5 separate regions of the Homo sapiens genome follow, and regions 2, 3, 4 and 5 are each linked to region 1. Evidence: fine-mapped expression QTL. A gene starts in region 1. Each other region holds a variant in brackets. All regions are shown on one strand. Distances are between the middles of the regions.

Region 1 (5,096 bases):
TTTGAATTCCCAATACTTGGGATTTCCTTCCCTGAAGTCTTCCCTCTGGGGAAGTCTAGCCAATGGCACTCACATTTCACATTTCTTTTCTCAGAGAAGGCATCTTTTTTTTTTTGAGATGGAGTGTTGCTCTGTTGCCCGGATTGGAGTGCAATGGCGCGATCTTGGCTCACTGCAACCTCCACCTCCTGGGCTCAAACAATTCTCCCGCCACAGCCTCCTGAGTAGCTGGGATTACAGGCGCATGCCACCACATCTGGCTAATTTTTGTATTTTTAGTAGAGATGGGGTTTCACCATGTTGGCCAGGCTGGTCTTGAACTCCCGATCTCAAATGATATGCCTGCCTCAGCCTCCCAAAGTGCTGGGATTACAGGTGTGAGCCACCATGCCCAGCCAGAGAAGGCATCTCCACCCAAATCCTTGTGGCAGTTCTCACACCTTTCTTCCCCAGAATACAAGGCTTCTCAGTTGTCTTCCATTTTAGGCTTACAAGACCTCTGTCAAGTTCTCCCCATTTCAGAAGATGAAAAACAGACCTTGAGTGACTTGCCCAAGGTCACATGAACAGTCAGCATTGAAACAGAAACCAGAACCTAGGTCTCCCAAGTGACTCCTAGCTCGAAGGCTCTCATGACTAACACCTTCAACAGGTGCTGCACACTGAAGACAGCTGGGCTGAGAGAACCAGACAGAATCGCATACAAAAAAACAGAAAACAAGAAACAAAAACAAACAAACAAACAAACAAAAAACAACAAAAAACAAGGCCCAGCGCAGTCGCTCATGCCTATAATCCCAGCACTTTGGGAGGCAGAGGTGGGTGGATCACCTGAGGTCAGGAGTTCAAGACCAGCCTGGCCAACATGGTGAAACCCTGTCTCTACTAAAAATACGAAAATTAGCTGGGCATGGTGGCAGATGCCTGTAATCCCAGCTACTTGGGAGGCTGAGGCAGGAGAATCACTTGAATCCAGAAAGTGGAGGTTGCAGTGAGCCAAGATAGTGCCATTGCACTCCAGCCTGGACAAGAAGAGTGAAACTCCATCTCAAAAAAAAAAAAAAAAAAAAAAAAGGCGGGTGCGGTGGCTCACGCCTGTAATCCCAGCACTTTGGGAGGCAGAGGCAGGCGGATCACCTGAGGTCAGGAGTTCGAGACCAGCCTGGCCAACATGGTGAAACCCCCATCTCTACTAAAAATACAAAAATTAGCTGGGCATGGTGGCGGGGGCCTGTAATCCCAGCTATTGGGCAGGCTGAGGCAGGTAGAATAGCTTGAACTCGGGAGGCAGAGGTTGCAGTGAGCCGAGATCACATCACTGCACTCTAGCCTGGGTGACAGAGAGGAGAGACTCCGTCTCAAAAATAAATAAATAAATAAATAAAAATTTAAAAACCAGATACACACAGAGGCATGGAAGCCTAGGCCAAGGTTCCCTGATCCTCCCAAAGGTGAGAGTTCCTGCTAGTAGTTCTAGGGAACCCCCTTATCTGCCCTGGCTAGGCCTCCTCACTAGTTTCTGGGGAACCCCCATATCTGCTCTGGCTAGGCCTCCTCACTAGTTCCTGGAATGGTCTCCATCTCTCCTCAGCCCCTGCCAGATTGCTGAGCACGTTGGTATTGGAGCAAGCTGTGTGTATCTGTCTCGCCAGAAATATTCCGTAGTCCTGAAGATCAGGGATGGTAACTTTCGTCTCCACATCCCCAGTACCTAGTTTAGTGTCTGGCATGCATGAAAGTGCGTGCGTAGAACTGAATTAACAATTATAATATATTGTTCTCCTGTTACGGCTGAAGTCGCGTAAGGCAGAGATCACATCTCCTACAGTCTCATGTCGTTTCCACGGACAGGGATGAGCGAGACATCTAACATTGACTGGGTTCCTAGTCCCTGTATACATAAATGGATGATGAATGGCTTGGGGAATGTAACATGTGATCTTTAATCTGCAATGCACTCTCCCAGTAGATATTTCTAGTGGAGACATTAGAAAAATTAGAGCTAGATGTGTTCATTGCCTTAATTTCAAAGGCAATCTTGCCGCCTTTCACCGCCCCTCTATGCATTCTAGTGGCGCACTCCCGCCTCCCCGGAGTGATAATGATTGGTATTTTCCAGCCGAGATCCGAAAAAAAAAAATCTGCCTCCGAGGCGATGATTGGTTCACTGCTTCCCGCATCCCACCTCAGGGTTGCCTCCTGGTACCTTCCCGTGTAGGAAAATGATTTTGTCCCGCGCAGACTCCCTCAGCACCTTCTGCAGTCTGAAGCCGGAGAACGGTAAGCGGACAGGAGCACAGGTACCATTTCCAACTCCTGCCTCCTTTTCCTCTGTGCTGGCGGCGTGGGCCTCCTCCACGTCCAATTCGCGCTTCCTCTTGCCTAGTTGAGGAGCTGCGTCCGCCATGCTGCCGCGGAGGCGGTGTGCGCCTGCGCCCCCTGCGCTGGCCCCGCCCCTAGCCCGAGTCCAGCGGCCTGGCTGGGCTGCTAACTCCCGGCCTACCCTGCTCTGGCACCCGCTCCTGCGGGATGCGTGCCGCGCATGGCGGAGCCCGCTGACCTGTCCCAGGGCGCGCCTTTCAACCGAGTTACTGCCTTTGGCCCCGTTGTGGTGCCGGCCGGCCCTCAGGGAAGGGAAAAGAAGGCTGAGAGTCCCGAAAGCGGCGGGCTAGAGGTGGCTGCGCAGTGAAGAGGGACCCCCAGGCCCACGCCCCGGGGTGGGAGCCGAAGACGCCCTTGGGCCACGGTAGTGTTGGAGCCCTTGTTTGAATACTGACATTTTAATCATAGTTACACCGACGTTGACCAATTATCGGGGAAGCAACGTTTCTGACGCAAATCCGTGAGCCCATTTGATTCCTTGGTCGATTTTTTATACCGAGTATTTAAGCCATTTCCATTTTTCTCCCATTTTAATTACTTTGCAGAAATTTTCATCGTGGTCAGTTTTTTACTTTGTAGACTCAGTACTTTTCTGCTGACAAAAAAGGTAAACGAATATGGCCAGAAGAACCATCTCCACCACCCACTTATTTCCGGGCTAGAGGCATCCCCCTCCTCTCTATTTTGTTTACCTGTATTTCTGCCCTGCTACCCAGGGATATGATTTGCAGTATGATTCGTCTCCCAGGGTTTCGTTTCTCTTTTTTTTTTTTTTTTTTTTTTTTTTTGCCATATAAAATTATTACTTGTAACTTCTGCTGTTGAGGGTTTCTTTGGTGACCATTGTTTCTGGTTAGCCCGTTTTTCACTGGTGTTATTTAACAGATCTAAATTTTGTGAAGAGTTGGTACTTACGGACAGGCGCGGTGGCTCACGCCTGTAATTCCAGCACTTCGAGAGGTCGAGGTGGACGGATCACGAGGTTAAGATACCGAGACCATCCTGGCCAACATGGTGAAACCCCGTCTCTACTAAAAATACAAAAATTACCCGGGCGTGGTGGCCCGCGCCTGTAGTCCCAGCTACTCGGGAGGCTGAGGCAGGAAAATCGCTTGAACGCGGGCGGAGTATTGTAGTGAGCCGAGATCGCACCACTGCACTCCACCCTGGCGACAGAGCGAGACTACGTCTCAAAGAAAAAAAAAAAGAGTTGGTACTTACATCGCTTCAGTCAGCCACACATTTATTTTGCCAGTGATTTGAGTTTAGGTTTTCAGACAGATCTCATGGGTGTGGGACAGTTTTTGCCATTCTCAACGTTAGCAACAAGATGCAATTTACAGTCAGTTTTTGGTCAATAACAAAGTGTACCATGTGTTAGTTTGATTTTTGGATTACTTCTACCAGAAATATAGATTAGGAGTTGGATAAAAGACTACTTTAGGCCAGGCGCGGTGGCTCATGCCTGTAATCCCAGCACTTTGGGAGGCCGAGGTGGGCGGATCACGAGGTCAGGAGATCGAGACCATCCTGGCTAACGTGGTGAAACTCCGTCTCTACTAAAGATACAAAAAAATTAGCCAGGCGTGGTGGCGGGCGCCTGTAGTCCCAGCTACTTGGGAGGCTGAGGCAGGAGAATGGCGTGAACCCGGGAGGCGGAGCTTGCAGTTAGCTGAGATCGCGCCACTGCACTCCAGCCTGGGTGACAGAGCGAGACTCCATCTCAAAAAAAAAAAAAAAAAAAAAGGACTACTTTGTGTGTGTGTGTGTGTGTGTGTGTGATGCAGAAAGCATTATTAGGAGAGACTTAGGATCTGTCCCCCAGGCTGGAGTGCAATGGCGCGATCTCGGCTCACTGCAACCTCTGCCTCCAGGTTCAAGCGATTCTCCTGCCTCAACTTCCTGAGTAGCTGGTATTACAGGCGGCTGCTACCACTCCCGGCTAATTTTTTGTATTTTTAGTAGAGTCAGGGTTTCACCATGTTGGCCAGGCTGGTCTCGAACTCCTGACCTCGTGATCCGCCCGCCTGGGCCTCCCAAAGAGCTGGCATTACAGGCGTGAGCCACCGCACCCTGCCAAAGTAGCTATGTTTTAACAAAAAGAGCCCATAATTGAGAGCCATGAAGTCGGGCCCCAACACTGACTAGCTGTGCAACTTTGGAAAAGTCTCTTAACCTTTCCAGGTCTCCATTTTCCATGTGCCAGCGGCTATTAGTTCTAAGCAAGACAACGAGGCCTCTTCTTTCATAAAATGTATATTCAAATGGGGTACATGAGGTAAACAAGATAATGATTAAGAACTGTTTTTTGTTTTTTGTTTTTTGTTTTTTTTTGAGACGGAGTCTCCCTCTGTCGCCCAGGCTGGAGTGCAGTGGTGCGATCTCGGCTCACTGCAAGCTCCACCTCCCAGGTTCACGCCATTCTCCTGCCTCAGCCTCCCAAGTAGCTGGGACTACAGGGGCCTACCACCACGCCTGGCTAATTTTTTGTATTTTTAGTAGAGACGGGGTTTCACCGTGTTAGCCAGGATGGTCTCAATTTCCTGACCTCGTGATCTGCCCGCCTCAGCCTCCCAAAGTGCTGGGATTACAGGCGTGAGCCACCGTGCCCGGCCAAGTACTGTTAATAGGACAAAACTGGACAGTGTGAAAGAGCCTGGGGATAGGAGCCCCCCCCCCCCGCCCTTTTTTTTCTTTCTTTGAGACAGAGTCTC
Region 2 (5,102 bases), 70 kb after region 1:
CGTGCACCAAAAAAGAGGACATGAGATCCAGCAAACAGAGAATCGATACAGGAGAGATGTAAAGGAAATTATCAGGATGATGGGAATGGGAAATAGCAAATATCAGGAACGCAACAGGACTGGAGAACAAGTGTCCAGAGTGGACTAGCATCCAGAAGGAAGAATCCATGACACAAACCAGCAAGTTATCGGTGTGTTTCAGTATAGCTAGGAGATTTATTCTTCTGTCAGAGCATGTGAGAATACATTGAAAGCAAACAAACAAACAAAAAAGACAGTCTTTAATGACATAAGCAAAAAAAATGGGCAAGAAAGGAAACATAATCGTTACGCATTAGGCTCAGCTATGAATACTACTTATACAGTCGTAATAATGTAAATATTAAAAGTGGATTGAACCAGGCCGGGCACAGTGGCTCACGCCTATAATCCCAGCACTTTGGGAGGCCGAGGCGGGTGGATCACGAGGTCAGGGGTTCGAGACCAGCCTGACCAACATGGTCAAACCCCATCTCTACTAAAAATACAAAAAAATTAGCTGGGCATGGTGGCAGGCACCTGTGATCTCAGCTACTCAGGAGGCTGAGGCAGGAGAATTTCTTGAACCCGGGAGGTGGAGGTTGCAGTGAGCCAAGATCGTGCCACTGAACTCCAGCTTGGGCGACACAGCAAGACTCTGTCTCAAAAAAAAAAGTGGATTGAACCAAACACTGTGACACAAACATACAAGAACATGGGGAGAGTGTGTGGAGTGGCAATACAGAGGGAGGAGTCATGAGAGCAAAGCAGTCCTTATATTCCATACTCAGAAATCAATAAAACCAAAAAACTAAAAAGCAGCAATATATATAGTATTTTCAAACATGGATGTCAACATTAGAAGAAACAGGTAAAGTTGAAAGTGATTATCTCTGAGGAAGGGCGGACTTTGAAATACTGATTTTAAAAACTATGTACCTGTACTGCCTTGATAAAAAATAAAAATTAAACCCAAAATAAAAACAATTTAATTTTGAGTATGAAGGTCAATACTAATTAGTGAAAACAACTGATATAGAAGGTATAAGTTGGCTATTTTTCTTTCTCTCCCACTAATGGTAATTTACTCTGCTGATTCCCTTCTCTTGTTTACCTGGGCTTTTTGGTGGGAGGTTCGCCATCGTTGAAGAATCCAAAAATCTCGTCTATATCAGAGGCCTGGCTCCCTGTAGAAGCCATCCAGTTTCTAAAATAGATTAAACACCATGAACCACAATTAGATCTGTAAAGTATACTATTCAAAATAGCACATATATTAAACAGTTTAAAAAAGCTGTATACCCTTAAAGGTGTTTTGGAGGTGCCCCCTACTTAACAGAAATTTGTTAATTAATGAACATTCTAAACAAGGAGCTAAATTAAATTAGTCTAAAAGAAGTAATCTGGAAATTATAGGACTTTGGTGCTCCATACTACCATCTTGCTTCTGTTTCTGAAGGCCTGCCCCCAAGTTCCCACCAAAAACAGTGTCAACTCATGTCAATTACTGGCCATCACTTTGTAGAACTTAAGAAAAACCAGTTATTCTCCCACAAGATGGGTTTGCGGAAGACTCAGGGGATAAAAACCACCCATAGATAAGTGTATTAATAGCCCCCAATTACCCATTTACTCTCAGCTGAAGAAATTACTGAGTCAAGAACAGAACAATCAATACTAATTTGCTGAATGACATTCTCTGTTGTTGGACGATGGTGACCTTGTAGCCAGTGGGGCATGTCTCTCTAACTAAACATGAAGTGGACTTCAAATCAAGCCACTGTGATGACTGGTAAATGTATCATCAAGCAAAGATGTATGAAAAATGGCCAATTATGTTCGGGTGCTGGAATAACTGGCAAAAGTAAATAATTACCATGGATTAGAATGAATACTATAAAGTTCTAAGTGCTCAAACTTTGGCAAACTTGTTAAATCTAAAGACTGTGAATTTAAAAATAGTAATAGTATTTTAAACACACACACAATATAGAAGACAATACATACTACCACCGTTTGGGGTGTTTTAGTACATTCCACTGGCAACATATAGAACTGAATTACTAATAATTACTGCAAGTTTACTGTTTTATTAGAAAGCCCTTTTCTTTTCTTTTTTTGAGACTGGGTCTTGCTCTGTTGTCCAGGCTAGAGTACAGTGGCGCCATCTTGGCTCACTGCAGTCTCGGCCTCCTGGGCTCAAGCGATCAACCCACCTCAGCCTCTCCATCACCTGGGACTACAGGCACATGCTACCACATCTGGTGGAATTTTGTACTGTTTGTAGAGAGGGGGTTTTGCCATGTTGCCCAGCTGGTCTCTAACTCCTGAGCTCAAGTAATCTTCCAGCCTTGGCCTCCCAAAATGTTGGGATTACAGGCATGAGCCACTGCACCCAGCCCAAAAAAGCCTTTTTCTTTATTAAAACACT[A/T]AGTTTCTGAATTAATTTTTTGTGGTAAACAGAAGGCTCACATCCTCACCCCATAGTCCATCACACGCAGTGTAATTCTTCTTTATATCATAATCATAAGGTAAATAGAAATAATACAGTCACAGTAGTGAGTTAGGAAGTAGATCATGTTTCCAGTCAAATCTTTGATTCTGTTGGTGAGAAAGCTGGGGCTCAGGAGAAGACAGATGAGTCACTTATCTCAGTAAATCCTGCCTTAACACAACCATGTAGGTTTTTCTGGGTTTTTTGTTTTGTTTTGTTTTTGAGACAGAGTTTTGCTCTTGTTGCCCAGCCTGGAGTGCACTGGCGCAATCTCGGCTCACTGCAACCTCCGCCTCCTGGCAGTTGCTCCCTTCAAGCAATCCTCCTGCCTCAGCCTCCTGAGTAGCTGGGATTACAGGCATGCGCCACTATGCCCAGCTAATTTTGTATTTTTAGTAGAGACAGAATTTCTTCATGTTGATCAGGCTGGTCTCGAACTCCTGACCTCAGGTGATCCGCCCGCCTCAGCCTCCCAAAGTGTTGGGATTACAGGTGTGAGCCACCGCACCCAGCTGGGATGTTTGTTAAAAGTATATATATTCTTGAAAATAAAGTTAATTCATTAAATTAAAAAAGTTTGTTTCTAGGCTCTACTCCAAAATTACAGAATCAGATTCTCCAGAATCTTCCTTCAAATAGGAAACACCTAAATAAGATGCAAACTTAATTTTTCTACAATGCAACAATTTTGTTAAATATAGGATGCACATGAAGTATACCATTAAGCCATCTTCCCTTAAGTGTAATAACTTATTACAGTCTAACGACTTCCCAGTTTGCTTATAACAATAGCCAGGTTTTAAGTGTCCTTAAAATATTTTTATGAAGTTTTAACTTATGTGACTCACTTCCGATTCTAAAAGTCAACGCTCTAGAATGGTGAACTAGGGGTAGAATGTGTTTACTTCTTCCACACACAGGACAATCCATTAGTTTGGGGATATATATTTTTTTAAGTTTTTTTAAGGAAAAAATATATTTTTTTAAAAAAAAATATTTTTTAAGTTTTAAAAAAACTTTAAAAAACTTAAAAAAATATATTTTTTAAGTTGTTTTTAAGGAAAAAACTTAGGTGCTTAAGTTCTTTTCTTAAATATGGTTCTATAAACCCATCATCTAAACAGATGACATGCAAGTAAAAACACTATATTGAGAGAGATGAAAGTAAAATGTAGAGGGAAGTTCATGCTTATTAAGTTTTGAAGATGGACATCTTCAGAATTCAATGCTCAATTCAGCTACTAAGCCAGTTTACAAGCTCTTAACTACATGCCATGGACTATTTATAAACATTAACTCATTAATCCGCATAACCTTACGAGGCATTGTTCTTACCTTATTTTACAGATGAGAAAACTGAGGCACAGAAAGATCGGGTACTTGGTAGTACCAGTATTCAAACCATGGCAACTGTGCCTCTCAAGTCCAAGTTCTTAACTACACTATTGCTAAACAGGAAATGCTCAATGGAACATTTCAGATTTCAGATTTTTTGGACTAGGGATGCTCAACCGTTAAGTATAATGCAAATATTAAAAACAAAACAAAACAAAAAAATCCCCTAGAAATCCAAAACACTTCTTTCTGCTCACAAGCATTTTAGATGAGGAATAATAAACCTGTATTAACTTTTCAGCCAAAACAAACAAAAAAAAACTTAAAGTCCAAAACTATCAACAAAGGAAGTGCCTGCATTCTAGAAAGGAGATTTACTTGAAGTAATGCCAAGTAATCCTTAACAGCTGCTTGTTAACTAGGTACTCCATTGATGCAATCTTGGCAGTCAACTACATTCAGAAGCTGGGAAAACTACTTTCTCCAGTGACAAGCACTATTTGTTATATACTTCTCACTACCACTTATCCACCAGAGCCTAGATCTGTCCTACCATTTTGTCCTGGAAATTACGTAAGATCGTTTTTGCTGGATTCTATTTCTGCCAGATGGTTAATTCATGATGTCTAGACCTGAATACTAAGCTTTCTGACTTATTTCTTTACACAGTCAACTTTTCTGAAGGTCCATTCCAACTACTATTACTTTAAAAAATTAAATATAGCCAATCGCTTCTGACTGAGAATGTTTAGGGTCTTCTTATTTAGGTACTGAATGAGACGTAGCTCAGCATGCCTACATTATATCCAATCATATACTCATCCTGTTTTCTAACAGAGAAACATATTTTCTTTACCCTAAAGGATGCCTCACATGATACAATCTCACATGTATACCCCAGTGGCATATAAGCACAAACCATATTTTATTCCTTCTAGAGTACTGTTTTCAGGAAAAAAAAATCAATTTTAGCATGTACCCTAAACAAAATGCAGTTATTGCTAAAGAGCTTCAAAGCTAGTTCACACTTTAATTTTTTTTATGTGATCACGTTTGAGTTTTCATTTTTGTGGGACTTGCTATGTATAGCAAAAATGGAAAATGTTTTTCTGCCACAAGAAAACAAAGTCAATTACCTGTGGCAGTGTCTTCATTACCTCAATTACTGCTAAGCCACTGAGAAATCCTTCAAGGCCAATAGAGTACAGCAAAATAAAAGTCAGATACTTGGTAAAAGATGAGCAAAGTAACAGCA
Region 3 (5,102 bases), 27 kb before region 1:
ATAATGGTATATAATAAGGAATATACATGGCCAGGCACAGTGGCTCACACCTGTAATCCTAGCACTTTGGGAGGCCAAGACAGGCGGACTGCCTGAGCTCAGGAGTTCGAGGCCAGCCTGAGCAACATGGCAAAACCCCATCTCTACTAAAAATACAAAAAAGTAGCCAGGCATGGTGGCAAGCACCTGTAATCCCAGCTACTCACACCAACCACATCAGGGCTTCCTTACTTGAATCTCAGGTCTGCACAACCAGCACAACAGAACAACTGTTCCAGGAGATTCCCTAGGACCCTGAACAGCAGAAACTCTAAGAAGGTGGAGATATAGTTCCTTTTCACTTGGAAAACAGAACAAGTGCTGGGACTTTAAAAACAAACAAACAAACAACAACAACAACAACAAACAAGTCAGCTTGAGCCAGATGCACCCCACGCAAACTGCTGCCCAGGGAGACCAGGGCTGAACCAGGCTGGGGAAGGGGGCTGGCGGCACACAGGTCTCCCAAGGAAACTTCATTCCTGCAGGCCCTGTCAGCCTCCCTTTCCTTACTCCTGTCAAGTACAATTCACCTTGCAGTGCCCACACACACAGCGTACCCTCCCTTCTTCTGGGCCAGGGAGGAGTGGCTGTGAGTTCCTCACATCACAACACCCTCCACCACAGTGACCTGAATCTTGGGGAGAAAAGTGAGAAATGCTCGAAGAGAACAAGGGTGAGTGATAAAGACAAGGCACAGTGTCAGAGTCAGTGAGTGGGCAAGAAACTGACTCATCAATAAGCATCAGTCATATTTAACTCTGAGTACTCACATGGGGCCAGTTCCAGGCAGAGGCTCCAGTTGGCGCTGGGCCTAGGCCCAGGGAGGAGTCAGGATCTTGGAGCTAAATGGCCTTGCATCTGGCCTGGCCAGACGACTGCCAGCTTGTGAATGGAGTCCCTGCACCAAATCCCCGGGGCCAATGGGGTCCTGCCTTCTTTTGGACGAATGCAAGGGGGAGTCGGTGAGGGAAGAGTTTTTCCTCTGAGACTGAGATCCTGCAGGCCGGTTTGCCGCAGGTGAAACCAGGAATAAGAGTCTGGACAGGGTGGGACTCACTCAACATCAGCCTTTTACCCATTCATGGACCCAAAGCAATGGCACAGTCATCCCGAGGCTGGATCAAGGCTACTGCAGAGCAGACACACATTCTTCCAAAGGACTGGATTGCTTTGAGGTCCCCAGAGAGCCTCCATGGCATGCCCAAGCACATCAGGTGGGACCAAGACCAGCATCAGTTCCCCCACCCCCAAAGCCTTCTCTCGCCATGCGATATAAAATGGCAATTGCCCGCCCCAGGCCTTCTGGTCCCACTTATCCTGTCTATTTCTCTCTGCAGCCCTCATTATCTCACAGAGCACATAGATCCTGAGATATCTGTGTATGGTCACACACCGTGTGACTGTGCATGGGATGTAAGCTGCACGAGGTGGGGATTCTGTCCGCCATGCTCTCTACTGTACCCCCATCCCCTCGCCCAGCACAGCGCCTGGCCCCTAATATGACCCCAATAGACACTCGTAAGAGGAGGCACCAGCCACGGGAGCAGTGCTCTGCGTCTGAGACATGCAGCCAGTCACCTGGATGCTGAGGCTCTGGGACTCCAGGTGGGGTAAAGTAATATTCCTGTAGTCATCTCCCGTCTCTCGGATCAGGCGGAGGTCCTGGCGCAGGTACTTCTGCAGGTGTTTCTCTGTGGCAGGGTAAACCACGGTCGTCTTTACATCTGCAATGATACAGCACAGCCCGTGACAGGGAAGCAATGCCCACTCTCTATGCCACAGGCACCACGGTGAGGAGAGAACTCCCACCCTGGCTTTGATTCCCTGAGGGAAGCCAAAATCCAAGAGGATCATGCACCCAAGATCCACTCCCACAGAGTGCCTTGTGCCACTGCATTCACGAGCTGAGCCACACTCAGAATCTGGAAAACACAAGGTTCTTACCTGTGGGTCACTGGGCCCCTCATCAGGCAAACCCCAGCCCTTCCTGCTCCATCTTCCAGGCACAGGAATGAGAGGTCTCTAACTCTTCTCACATACCAAATTTCTAGGTATGTGGCTTTCTGGACCCAAAGCTGAAAATATGGCTTAAAGGCCGGGCGCAGTGGCTGACGCCTGTAATCCCAGCACTTTGGGAGGCCGAGGCAGGCGGATCACCTGAGGTCAGGAGTTCGAGACCAGCCTGACCAACGTGGAGAAACCCCATCTCTACTAAAGATACAAAATTAACCGGGCGTGGTGGCGCATGCCTGTAATCCCAGCTACTCAGGAGGCTGAGGCGGGAGAACCACTTGAACCTGGGAGGCAGAGGTTGCAGTGAGCCCAGATTGCACCATTGCACTCCTGCCTGGGCAACAAGAGTGAAACTCTATCTCAAAAAAAAAAAAAAAAAAAAAAAAAAAAAAAAAATATATATATATATATATATATATATATATATGGTTTAAAGCCCAGTAGTCCCCTTAATGATGGGCAGTGCAGCAGAGCGCAGTGGTTCCAGGCACAGACTCTGCAGCCAGACTGAGTTCAAGTCCTGGCTCTGCCTGCTCCTTATTCTGAATGGGACCTTGGCCCCACCCGGGAGCACGGTTCAGCTGTTTAACCTCTTGGTGCCCCTACTTCTTCATCTGCCAAATGAGGATAGTAAAAGCTCCTGTGTCATAAGGCTGGGAGGATTAAACAAGTCAATTACCTGTGAAGTTCTTAAAACAATGTCTGGCACACAGTAAACACCACATAAGTGCTGTGATGTTTAATCCAGGGTTTCTCAATCTCAGCACCACTGACATTTTGGCCTGGATAATTCTGTTGCAGGGGCTGTCCTGTGCATTGAAGGATGTTCAGCTGCATCCCTGTGGCCTCTGTTGGGATGTTAGTAGCACCCTCCCCAAGTTGTGACAACCCAAAATGTCTCCAGACATTGCCAATGTGTC[C/T]CCTGAAAGGAAAAAGTGTCCCCAGGTGAGAAGCACAGTTTTAAACTAGAAGGATGTCTTGCAGTTTTCCTAAACAGACTCTAGGCTAGCTTCCTGGTCCAAAACCACCTGGTTTTGGTTAAGTCCTTTCCTTTATTTTTAAAAACATCTGGTACAATTGTCATCATTACTCTAACATGTATACATTGTGTTTTAACATAGATCTTAGGGGTATTTCCAAATCAGCTTGGATCTTTCTCAAAAGACCCATGGTTCCCTCTGACTTTCTTAATCTGGGTTCGGATAGGCTCTCCCAGGGAAACCCGAGAGAGCTGAAAACCCAGCGGGCACATTTCACCACCACGAAGTCCTCATACTCACTCACACACCGCAAAACCCGGCTAAGAACTATCAACCTATACTTTCATATTTGGTCTGAGGTCATAGGTGGTTTTAACCCCGCTTTCATACGTCAGTGAAGAGGGTGGGCTGGGACTCAAAAGAGTCATCCAGTATCACACCGTGAAACGTGGCAGAGGCGAACCTGGAACTGAGGCCATCTCACCCTAAAGCCAGTGCTCCTGCAACACCACAGGCTACTTCCAATTTCTACTTCCAAGTCCCAGTGGGGATGCACAGAGATGACATACCAGGCACGTGGCTTCTGTCCCATCAAACATCCCAGGCCCTCAGCTCTGGGTGGCACAGCAGCACAGTGGGAAGACATGGCCACTGGCCCCAGGCTGGCCACATGACTCTCCATACTGGCTGTGTACCCTTGGGCATGGGGCTTAACGTCTTAGAGCCTTGGCTTCCTCACCTATTAAAGGGTGGTCATCAAATCTGCCTCACAGAGTTGTTTACATTCAATAAAACGTGTCAGCTGGATCACGAGTTGCTAAATAAATGTCACCCAATCCTGGGAATCCCCGGATCTGACCCTGAAAAAGGGGCATGAAGGCCTCCTCACAACTCTCTGAGGAGCAGCAAAAGACTCTTTCTTGCTTCTCACTCTGTTCTCTAACAGCTCAGCGTCATAGGTCATGGGCCAGAGGTCAGAGGTCAGGCACACCAAGATCTCAAGAGGCGGGAGACTGCTTGAAGTAGACTGAACGGCACCACCTTGGCCCTTGCAGTGGACCTGAGGGAAATCCATACATCTGCAGTGGAGCTTGGTGGATGAGAACAGAGATTTTGGAGCCAGTCAGCCTGGGTGCAAGTCCTGGCTCTGCACTTATTAGTGGCGTAACCTCAGGCTAGTGACTGACACTGTCTGTGGCTTCAGTCTCCTGACTTCTACAATCTGGGGTAACAATAACAGCACCTACCTTCCAGGGCTGTTGGGAGAATTAAACGAGTCAGTAGAAGGAAAGATTCAGGAAGTGCCTCACATGGAGAAAAGCGCTCCCCCCAGGCTAGCTTGGATTCTCTCCGCTGTTGCCTCCGTTGCCTGGGTTGGGCAGTGGAGCTCCCTGAGAGTGGGGGAGAGATGGGCAGGGCACAGAGGCAGAGCGGGCGCTGGAGAGCAGCCGGGTTCTGCGGGCAGGGTCACCCAGCCGGGCTCCCAGCCTGGGGCTCCTGGCTGCTCCAGATCAGAAAGCCACCCGGCCTGTGAGCATGCCCTGGTCTGCCGAGGCCTGTGGGAGACCTGCCCCAGCCACCCAGGGTGCAGGGAAACTGGCGTCTCACCCAGCCAGCCCCTCCCGCCTCCCCTCAGCAGCAAGAGCATCCACAGGTGCTTATTTTCCAACTGCTCACTTCCTGCCATCCTCCTGCCTTTCCTGAGGTGCACCTGCAGGGATGGGAACCTGACTGCAGGACTCTCAGAGCTCCCCACGTCCCCCTAGAGCACTCACTCCTAAGGGGCCTGGCTTCCCTCAGGTCTCCACCGAAAGCCTCAGTCAGGGCCACACTGAGGTGGGAGCTGCCACCCTCAAACTGTCCCCTGCTCCACAGCTCCCGCGCTTCCTGCCGTGGACTACGAGGCTGTTGGTCACCTCGCCCTGGCCCTCTTTCCACCTTCATGCACTGCCTCTCTCCCGCTTAGGGCCTCTGCTCCAGCCGCGCCGGCTCCCCACTGACCCACTAACTCGCGTCAGCCATGGGCTCCTCTCCAGGCCGTGCCCTGGCCGCTCCCACGGCCGAGCT
Region 4 (5,102 bases), 51 kb before region 1:
GATGGAGCACAGAAAGGGGGTTTGGTCTCTCTGCTCCTGCTGGGGAAGGGAGCCCTTTCCAGGATTAAAAGTCCAGAAAGGAGCAGATTCTTAGTTCTATCCAGAAAACCGGATTCTAGGAGTCTAACGAGGTTGGGAGGCTGGCGGGGGCACGGCACTCTCTTCCTGAGAAGCAGAGGGCCAGTCACTGCTTCCCGTAGGGAAGGCAGCCCAGAGGCACCTCAGCCTGGGCCGCCAGCTCACAGAGAAGGCGGCCCTGTTGTCTCTGAACAACAACCCATCCCCAAGCTAAAGACACCCACTCTGCCCAAAGTCCAAGCTGGCAATTTCCAATTCACTCTTCTAACTCTTCCTTCCATGTGCACCCTCACAACCTCGGTTACCATCTTGGAGTCTGGGGGATCTGGCCCCAACTCCTGGCAAGCTCCCCATGTCTTGACAGAGCCCAGGGCCCATGGGGCAGCTTAGGATCACCCACCCAGCGCAATGGGGCCAGGCACAGGAGCAGTCTGGGAGTGGGCCAGGAGCAGGGCAGGGAACGGTCAAGGGGCATTCCCAGACCAGCTCTCAGCAAGCAAAACAACCTCCCGAGTTCATTTCTAGGCCCCAAACAGCGGGCACGTCCCCGGAACCCACTCTAGAATTATCGGGCAGCTTTGGAGAGTAACAGCATGGGAGAAATATTACCAATAGTGAATATTTATACAGCTCTCCCTCCGTGCAGGCGCCTTTCAAAGCACTTAGCATATATCAACTCATTTAAAATCCCCCTGGCAGATGCCAGGGCCAGGACCTAGAGGAGGTGGAGTCTGTAGGACGGGTCCGGCACAGCTCAGGAGACAGTGACACGGGTGTGTGTCTCTTGTGAGAACTCAGCCTGTACCAGGCCTGTTCCCAAAGTTCAAAAAGAATGAGTCCGCCTGAGCCTGGCTTCCACGCGGTACCCGCCTCCGGCGGTGGAAAGTACAGGCTTCCCCAAGAGGCCTGTGGGGGGTGCCAGCTTGTGGGTGGCCATGAGGTCAGACAGGGCACAGCTGGGCACCCGAACACTGCCTACACTCCCAGCCTTCTGGCAGCAGTTCCCTTAAGCCAGGCCCTCAGGACCCAGGCTGGGGAGCAGAGGAAGCAGCCACAGTAGGTCAGGCCTCAAGCTGCCCAGACAGAGCCTCCCCCCAGGACTGGGAATGGAGGGGCAGTGCTGGCAGACATGTTGGCAGTTCTGGGCTGGCCGGGAGGTCCCTGCCAGCCAGGTCCCCGAGGAAACACCCACAGCAGACAGCTGAGCCCACTCCCCCCATCGCATCCCTCCCACTGCTCACCACCCATGCAGCCCTGAGGCACAGTGGCCTAGGCCTGACGACCCCCATAACGTGGCCCTAGGACCCTGGGCACAGCCGGCCTCCCACTGACAACTCCACCTTTGGGTCCTGCTCAGCGACCTTGCGACTCCTGCACACAGGCGGACCCCGCAAAGCCTGTCACCTCCAGCACAGTCAGCTCCCAAGTGCTGGACCTGACCGGGGTAGTTGTGGGAGAAACCATCGCTCGAGGATGCTGGAGGTGGGGGCCGCCGCTTCAGTCCGGGCGCAGGGCTGGGGGATTGGGGGCGGAAACTTTCCGCAGAACTGTCCCGCTTGCTCACTCCAAGGGAACGGAGAGGATCCGGCTTCCCGCGAAAATCTGGTCCAGGGAAAGGGACCCCGGAAAGCAGCTCCGCAGGGCTGTGGCAGCCCCACCCCGACCCGCGCTGCGCCCACGTGCAGGGCCCGACCCCCTCCGGGAGGCGCGGCGCCGGCTGGGGTCAGGCGGCCGAGGACCCCGCGGCTCCCCGCCCCGCCCCGCCCCGCGGGCCCCCGCGCACCGCCGCCGCGTACTCACCCTCACGGGTGGAGCGGGGCGGGGCAGCACGGTTCCGCGCGCAGCTCCGATCCGCTAGGCGCACCGACCGGCGGCGCAGCGCTGGCGCGACGGCTCGACTCGGCCGGGTCCCTGTCCCGGGCGCGGGTCCGGCCTGGGAGCGGGCGAGTCCGCCTGCAGGGGAGGCGGGGACCCGGGCCCGGGTTGGGGGCGGGGAAGGGGCTGGACACGCTTGCGCACACGGCGGCCCGACTCCCAGGAGCTCCCGGGAGGGGTAGAAAGGGCGGGGTGGAGGAGGGGGAAGGGCGGGGGTGATGCCGCGCGGTCGCAGGCTTGGGATGGTGTTCGCGCCTCCGAGACCCGGACAGAGGCAAGCAGGGGCGCCGTGGGTGCCAGAGAGGCGGAAGAGGAGGCCTGATGGGGTGAGCACAGGGCCAGGGCAGGCACTGCCTGTGAATGGCGCCAGGGTGGGTATGCCCAGCGCAGCCAAGGCGCTCGCTCCCGGGAACAATGAGAATCAAGAAAGGGTGCAGTGCTCTATCCCACGGGGAACGGTGTCCTTCCCTCACTGGGGAAACTGGGGCAGGGTCCTGTTCCGGGAGCCTATGCTTCCCGTGCCCCATGCACGCAAGGCAGCCAGTCAGTCCCCTGGGCCCAGACGTGGGCCCTTCCTCTGCTTCGGTTGGGGCCTGCTGCCCCTAAACTGCTCTCTCTGCACCCCTCACTTGCATACTCTTTATCTTGGCCTCAGAAAGTTTCTCAGTTTCCTTTCCGTTATTGAAGGCGCCAGGCATCCTGTCTCCAGGAAGAAACCCCTGGGCCCCTGACCCTGGTTCTTTGGACCCAGGCATCCCCCCAAATAAACCTGGGAACTGCCCAGGCTGAAGAACAGTTCAGAAGTCACCCTACAGGACAATCCACAGCCCCTTAGGCCAGTCCCTTTCACAGGTCAGCACAGTGTTTCCGGAGCCCCACGTATCAACAGCCCAGTGCCGGGAGCGCCAGGGGCTCCAAGGAAACTATCAGACCCATTCCCTGTCCCCAGGAAGCTTACCATCCAGCGGCACAGAGAAGGCTCACCATGGACTCCATTCAAGAACGAGGCAGGATAGGATGTGAATAAGTGCAAGGTGTGAGTGACTGACAGTAAGTGCAAGGGGGTTCAGAGAAGTGGCAGCTCCAAGCCTGCTTCTGCTGAAGCTGGAGGGCTTATCTGTCAAGAACCCCCAACTCAGGAAGCTCTGCTCCAAGTGAGCTGAGTAAGGAGAGTCTGCCTCCAAGTTGTTCCTCTGCAGGTGACTGTGCTCCAT[G/C]CTAAATCATTCCTTGCACGGGCAGAAGCTGTTTGGCATTGCACCAGTGTCTGATTTTGTTTGAATATGGTGCCTTTGGCTTAATCAGTCAGACATGCATTCAACAACTATTTATTTATTTATTTATTTATTTATTTATTTATTATTTTGAGACAGAGTCTCGCTCTGTCGCCAGGCTGGAGTGCACTGGCGTGATCTTGGCTCACTGCAACCTCTGCCTCCCGGGTTCAAGTGATTCTCCTGCCTCAGCCTCCCGAGTAGCTGGGACTACAGGCGCGTGCCACCATGCCCAGCTAATTTTTGTATTTTTAGTAGAGACGAGGTTTCACCATGCTGGCCAGGATGGTCTCGATCTCTTGACCTTATGATCCGCCCGCCTCGGCCTCCCAAAGTGTTGGGATTACAGGCGTGAGCCATTCAACAACTATTTATTGCATGCCATCTCCAGGCCTGGAATTAAGCTGGGTATAAAGAACACAATGACTAAGTCCCTGCCTCGGGCAAGTCGAGGAAGAGGGAAGAGCCTCCTTGTTCTACAGATGGGAAGACTGGCCCAAAGGGAGTAAGCAGCTGCCCTTCATAACTAAGTGAATCTGACAGAACTGATCCAAGCGTCAGCCCAGCCTCTAAACTTGGCCATTTGATGAACTAGATCTAAGCACAGTTTGCAGTTCTTGCCGTGAATCACGTAAATGTCACTCTACCAGAAAATGGAACTTAAGAACCAGCATTTGTTCCTGGAGACCTGAGTTCCAACTCTTGTCTCTGCCACTAAATAGCTTTAGTTTTCTTACTGGGGTGGGGGGAGGGGAAAGGAAATAACTGCTTATTCAAAGGGCTATTGTTGGCATTAAATCAGGCAATGGATGCGAATTTGGTCTGAAAGCATAACCTGCTATATATAAGTGTGTGCTGTTACTATGCAGGTGGCGTGCCTTTTCTAACCTATAAGCTGTATTCAGGCCTCTCCCCCAGCTTATCCCAAGCCTGGTTACTAGGTGCCCAGAAGCTAACCGTAATTCTGCTCCCCTCAGGTTAGGCCACAATGTGCTTACTCATGATGATCTTTTCCCTCCAGTTTCTTAACAGCATGGCCACAAGCTTAGCTCACTGCCTAGAAGCCATGTCATCTTTGGGGCAGGAGGGAAGCAATTCTGGTGCCTTTCTCCTCTTCTCTTCTCTCTTTTTCTTTCTTTCTTTTCTTCCTTCCTTCTTTCCTTCCTTCCTTTCTCTCTCTTCTTGTCTTTCCATCTTTCCTTCTCCTCTTCTTTCTTTTTCTTTCTTTCCTTTCTTCCTTCCTTCTTTCCTTCCTTCCTTTCTCTCTCTTTTTCTTGTCTTTCCATCTTTCTTTCTCCTCTTCTTTCTTTTTCTTTCCTTTCTTCCTTCCTTCTTTCCTTCCTTCCTTTCTCTCTCTTTTCTTGTCTTTCCATCTTTCCTTCTCCTCTTCTCTTTTTCTTTCTTTTTCTTCCTTCTTTCCTTCCTTGCTTTCTCTCTCTCTCTTCTTGTCTTTCCATCTTTCCTTCTCTTCTCTTTTTCTTTCTTTCCTTTCTTCCTTCCTTCTTTCCTTCGTTCCTTTCTCTCTCTCTTTTCTTGTCTTTCCATCTTTCCTTCTCCTCTTCTCTTTTCTTTCCTTTCTTCCTTCTTTCCTTCCTTCCTTTCTCTCTCTTTTCTTGTCTTTCCATCTTTCCTTCTCCTCTTCTTTCTTTTTCTTTCTTTTTTTTTCTTCCTTCCTTCTTTCCTTCCTTCCTCTCTCTCTCTCTTTTCTTGTCTTTCCATCTTTCCTTCTCCTCTTCTCTCCTCTCTCCTCTCCATGTGCTTTTTTGGCCCCAGGCCCCCCTTTGGTGCAACTACAACACATGATGAGCGGCTCAGCAAGAGGCAGTAGGATGGGATAAGCAGGGCTTTGGCCCATGGGGACTGTTTCTTTTGGATGTT
Region 5 (5,102 bases), 220 kb after region 1:
AAGGGACTATTGCAATAGGGAGAAGGCCCTGACCATCCTTCTGAAAGCTTCTTAGGAATAAGGCAGACAGGAATTTTTTTCCTTTCTAGGGAAGAGTAAACAAGGCTAGAAAGAAGCAGGTGTGGGGAAGGGGGTGGGTGATGGGGCAGCAGGGTCAGGCAGTGAGGCAGGGGCTGTTTGACCCAGAGGCCTGCCTCTTGTCAGGAAGGGCTGTTTGCTGGCTCAGGCTGAGGGTGCCCAAAGTCCAGGGGCCTTGAAAAAGAAACTCTTCAATGAAGTTTGGTTACAAGCATTTTGTCCCAATTGATCCGTGGAGACAAGCAGCTTAGCTAATCATTGATGAGGCAGAGCAAGGGACTCTGGAGGGTCTGTGACTGGCCTTGTCATAGGTAAAGTCTTAATCTAAGTCATTTGAGGAAGGGTGGGGTTCTTTGCCGTAAGCAGCTTGCTTTACATATTTTTGGGGGTTTAATTTGCAATATAAAATTCTAATAGACACTTTTCTCGCTATTATTTACTATGAAATATTTGGTTCCCGTTTTTAGTGGATTCACTGTAAGTGGCCATTTTCCGGGATCAATTGCCCTCCAATAATGAGAACCTTCTGCTCAGCCCCAAGAGCCTGAGACTCACGCCGGATGTCGCTGGCCATGAGCATGAAATTCCTTCAAATTCTCACATTTCATCTTAAAATATTTTTATAATCTATAATATACTTCTGATAAATTACTTGTTAAATTACTTAAAGTTTTCCCTAAAGGTCTTTAACCAAAAGGATCCTCTTTCTTAAGAGCCATTTTTATCCTGTGGCTTCACACACCCTGTGGCATATTGGATGTTTCCCTCAGGATATAGAAACTTTATTTGAAAAGCTTGGCCATAAAGAATGATCCAAATTACTTGGGCCTTGATGTTCAGAGGGGAATGTTGCCAGCCAACGACCATACACAGCCATAGAAAGATCTCAAAAATGTTCTCTTAGAATATCTAGCTTGGAGCAATGCTCTGATGGCTCTTTGAGGAAAGTTAATTGTAAATGTACTCTTGAATTGCTAGATTGATTTATAACTTTAAGTCTTTTTGAGCATGATTAGATATCTGAACCCAAGGTCCCCTGATTATACTCCTATGTCATGTCAAACAGAAGATGTATCCCATCTCCATTTAAAGAACTCCTCATTTGGTGATGAAAATCAGTTTCTTCATCTTCCTTTTTTTTTTGACAGGATCTCACTTTGTCTCCTAGGCTGGAGTGCAGTGGTGTGACCATAGCTCTCTGCAGCCTTGAACTCCTGGGCTCAAGCGATCCTCCCACCTCAGCCTCTCGAGTAGCTGTGGCTGACTACAGGCATGCACCACCATGACCAGCTATTTTTTTATTTTTATTTTTTGTAGAGATGGGTCTTACTAGATAATCATAGTTTCTTTTACTGTGCCTTTACTACATATCAGAAACAGGGCCAGCATTTTGCATGCATTATCTCTAACTCTCCTAACAGCCTGTAAGGAAGTTGTTACTATCTTCTTTTAACAAATGACAGAACAGAAAGGTTAAATGATTTTGCTAAGGCCACACAGCCAGAAGGTGGAGGTTATAAGGCTCATACCCTTCCCATTAAAGCAGAATACCTTAGGCTTCATACTTGGGTTAGGTTCATAGTATCAGTGACCAGAATGCCCCTTACCCCAACTTTTTCAAATACCGGTGGTCTCAACCAGGTTTTGGAGAGAAACCGGACAACAGCCAGTGCAAGGTTCAGCGCCTCGATAACAGTCCAACGCTCAGAAACTCTACTCTAACTGGAGGAAGACCCTCCAACTTCTTTTTGCTTTCTTCTTACTCACCTTTTAGGGGCAGCATTTAATGATATGGAATATTCTTTCTGTTACAGGAATAAAGTGAAGTAATTTGTATTTAATAAAATTGCGCACGCTCTCTTTTAACCCATTTTTTTCCCCAGGTCGATATTTTTACATGGGGAGCAATTGGAGTTTTCAAGCTCAGCCACTCCATTATTGATCATTGATTTACTATCTGTGGTTGTGAACGAATCTGTCTAAACCAATAGAAGATTGAGGGGGTTTTTTTGTTTTGTTTTTTGTTTGTTTTTCTTTTTTTTGAGACAGAGTTTTGCTCTTGTTGCCCAGGCTGGAGTGCATTGGTGCAATCTCGGCTCACCGCAACCTCTGCCTCCCAGGTTCAAGTGATTCTCCTGCCTCAGCCTCTCGAGTAGCTGGGATTACAGGCATGCACCACCACGCCCGGCTAATTTTTCTATTTTTAGTAGAGACGGGGTTTCTTCATGTTGGCTAGGCTGATCTCGAACTCCTAACCTCAAGTGATCTGCCCGCCTCGGCCTCCCAAAGTGCTGGGATTACAGGCATGAGCCACTGCACCCGGCCAGATTGAGGTTTTTTCCTCACCTCTCGTTGGCCTTGACAAAGGGGCCAGGAAGTGGACCACATATGAAGAGTATAGATCCCTAGTTGCTGATGTACATATAAAACACGCATTTTGATACTGCCATGAAAATCAAAGTCCACAGGAAGTATTTCCTGGCAGAAATGTCGTTATAAACATTTTCCAAATTTTTAAATTATAAAAGTATTATAAAAACTCTAAACCAGAATGTCATTCTTTTTCTTTTTTTTTTTTTAGATGGAGGCTCACTCTGTCGCCCAGGCTGGAGTGTGGTGGC[G/A]CGATCTTGGCTCGCTGCAACCTCTGTGTCCTGGGGCTGCTCCTGCTAGGGTGTCACCATGGGTCCCCAAGCTGATGTGATGCTGTCAGCATCCTGTCGGCACCTCCTTGGCCTGTACCATTTCGGGGCATGCTGGCTGACATTCCGACTGCCAGCTTCTATATCACTTGCCTGAGGCCTTTCTTTGCCTGCTGCAGCCTGCTTTGCCCACATATGTGGTAAACCAGACACACCGGGGAATTCATGCTCCTAGAGCAGCCCTCAACCATTGATTGATGGGAGTTGGTATATATGCCCCAGCTCCCTCCCCGCCTCAGGTAGGATGATTCAGAGGCTGTTCAACACTCCCAGAATTCCTCAGTGGGGATGAGCTTTAATTCCCTTAGTAGGAACTAGCTTGGTAACACACCTTTTTGGGGGCCTTTTTTCCTTTCCTGTCTCACTTGCCCACTCTCCTACTAGTGTTTACTGGGATCAAACAAATGACTTGTATTTGAATCCCTTTCTCCAGGTCTGCTTCTAGGGGAACCCAAACTAAAATGGATGGGTTATGCTTAGATCAAACTAAAGTGATACAAGACCATTCTTTTGGGCCATTTTATCTTGTACCCTCATCAACGGAGTCTTATTACTGTAGGGTGTCAACTAAAGACATTGCCAATCCTGTTACTCAGCACTGCCTATACGAATTTCATTGTGAGAAATTTCTTCTAAAACTTACAGCTGGAAAAAATTTTGCTTAGCCTGACACGCTGGTATATTTCCTTCATTCTGGTAAAGAGAATTAGATTCCAGACATCTGTCTGTCTGTCTCCTTTTTTTCCTCTCTCTTTTCCTCTCCAGATTTGCCTTCAGGGAAGCTCAGAAGCCAATCTGGAGTCCAATAACAGCAAATATGCAGGACTTTATCCCCCGTGTATGTGTGTTTCTCTTCCCTAGTCTTGATTTCATTTCGTGTATATTTTCTGTGATCCTAGTTATTCATTCTTATTTGGACTTACTCCTGCTTTAGTGCATGCATCTCTTTGCAAGCCGCCAATACTCTGTGGAACTAGTGGCCATGTGAATAAGGTGTTTAAGAAGCACTTCTTTAATGAATTATATTTGGATGCTAACTGTGCAAAGATATTGTTATGAAACTAGAGAAGTATGAGTCTCCCCTCCAGAGCACCTTCTCACCTTGTAGGACAGTGCTTTTTCAACTCTCTGGTTTCTGTAATTGTCTCCTTGGATGAAATCTTACATGGAAGATATGGCAAGTCAATAAAAAGAAGCTGTTCTGGTTGAGATGTGTGAGTGAGGGGATAGGAAATCCTTTCACTCAGCTTGGGAATCCTCTTCCGCTACACCCCCTACACCCTGTCTTTTGGTCCCCCAGGCACCAGCTTCTAAACTTGAGGTCTTTGTAGAGCACTGGTTGACAAACAGCTTTAGAGACACAAGCAGGGTGTGGGCCTTTGATGCCAGGGCAGTGCTGGGGACAGCAGCTGCGCACGGAGCTGTTCTGCCGCCACCCAGGAAAGGGGGCGCTCACTGCTGCAGGCTGTCTACCCACCGGACAGGGCTGTTCTCCCCAAGTTTGCCTTATCACAGGCGCTGACCTATAGGTCAAGAAGCAGCCTCGGCTGGGCACGGTGACTCACGCCTGTAATCCCAGCACTTTGGAAGGCCGAGGTGGGCGGATCACAAGGTCAGGAGTTCGAGACCATCCTGGCTAACATGGGGAAACCCTGTCTCTACTAAAAACACAAAAATTAGCTGGGCGTGGTGGCGTGTGCCTGTAGTCCCAGCTACTCAGGAGGCTAAGGCAGGAGAATCACTTGAACCCAGGAGGCAGAGGTTGCTGTGAGCCAAGATCATGCCACTGCACTCCAGCCGGGCAACAGAATGAGACTCTGTCTCAAAAAAAAAAGAAGCAGCCTCAGGGCAGTTTCCTCCCCAGCCCACTCTGTGTCACTCCATAGCTCGCTGGGCCCTCTTCTGGCCCTCTTGACACCTCCTCAAGTCCCCTCCTCAAGCCTGGTGCGGATGGGCAGGAGCAGGCTGGGACAGAGGTGAAGATCCAGGGGCTGGCTCGGCAGGAGAGGCAGGTGTGTGAGGAGACAGACCTCTGGCTCTGCCTCTTTTTCTGGAAGCTATCGGTTCTAAGCTTAGACACCAATGCACCCCCCACCCCCAGCCCGCACTGTTTGTCTAATAAGGAAACCTTTTTGACCTAGCCAGTTAAAAGTCCCGGCCCTTCACCTCATTACTGCCAAGGCCAGAACTAAAGAGGTGAAAGCTGGCAGCCTTGGGCTGCCTTCAACTTGGCAACTGGCCCTCAGGGTCTGTGTCTCGAAGTCCCAGCCTTTCAATAGGGCTGTGTTTTCAATCCTGCTTACACAAAGCCGCACGGTCTCCCTC

Evidence for each region.
Region 2: its variant is fine-mapped to the expression of DCPS in whole blood (INTERVAL, PIP above 0.99).
Region 3: its variant is fine-mapped to the expression of DCPS in whole blood (TOPMed, PIP above 0.99). The same link has a PIP of 0.9 or more in blood mononuclear cells and monocytes.
Region 4: its variant is fine-mapped to the expression of DCPS in breast (GTEx, PIP 0.94).
Region 5: its variant is fine-mapped to the expression of DCPS in whole blood (TOPMed, PIP above 0.99).

What each region holds. Positions count from the first base shown.
Region 1 is chr11:126,301,392-126,306,487 of GRCh38, reverse strand. It overlaps DCPS (decapping enzyme, scavenger), which reads right to left and starts at 2,428. Exons shown (of 6, transcript NM_014026.6): 1 at 2,207-2,428. The coding sequence starts at 2,407. TIRAP-AS1 (TIRAP antisense RNA 1) reads left to right here and starts at 2,166. Exons shown (of 2, transcript NR_187388.1): 1 at 2,166-2,300. RefSeq lists an enhancer at 393-682 and a silencer at 2,341-2,470.
Region 2 is chr11:126,231,118-126,236,219 of GRCh38, reverse strand. It overlaps FAM118B (family with sequence similarity 118 member B), which reads right to left. Exons shown (of 9, transcript NM_024556.4): 3 at 1,133-1,225. The coding sequence starts at 1,218. It also overlaps a transcript of SRPRA not described here. Among named protein-coding and RNA genes, the nearest start is that of FAM118B, 22 kb to the right of the region's middle. RefSeq lists a silencer at 4,240-4,440. The variant A/T (reference allele first, on the strand shown) is at 2,450.
Region 3 is chr11:126,328,069-126,333,170 of GRCh38, reverse strand. DCPS (decapping enzyme, scavenger) reads right to left here. Exons shown (of 6, transcript NM_014026.6): 3 at 1,621-1,766. Among named protein-coding and RNA genes, the nearest start is that of GSEC, 25 kb to the left of the region's middle. RefSeq lists enhancers at 1-23, 4,063-4,785, 4,786-5,102. The variant C/T (reference allele first, on the strand shown) is at 2,976.
Region 4 is chr11:126,352,619-126,357,720 of GRCh38, reverse strand. ST3GAL4 (ST3 beta-galactoside alpha-2,3-sialyltransferase 4) reads right to left here and starts at 2,035. Exons shown (of 11, transcript NM_001254757.2): 1 at 1,879-2,035. It overlaps GSEC (G-quadruplex forming sequence containing lncRNA), which reads left to right and starts at 2,134. Exons shown (of 2, transcript NR_033839.1): 1 at 2,134-2,279. RefSeq lists enhancers at 1,077-1,226, 914-1,657, 1,658-2,399, 2,400-3,143 and a silencer at 1,817-2,196. The variant G/C (reference allele first, on the strand shown) is at 3,168.
Region 5 is chr11:126,084,307-126,089,408 of GRCh38, reverse strand. No RefSeq gene overlaps it. Among named protein-coding and RNA genes, the nearest start is that of CDON, 24 kb to the right of the region's middle. The variant G/A (reference allele first, on the strand shown) is at 2,700.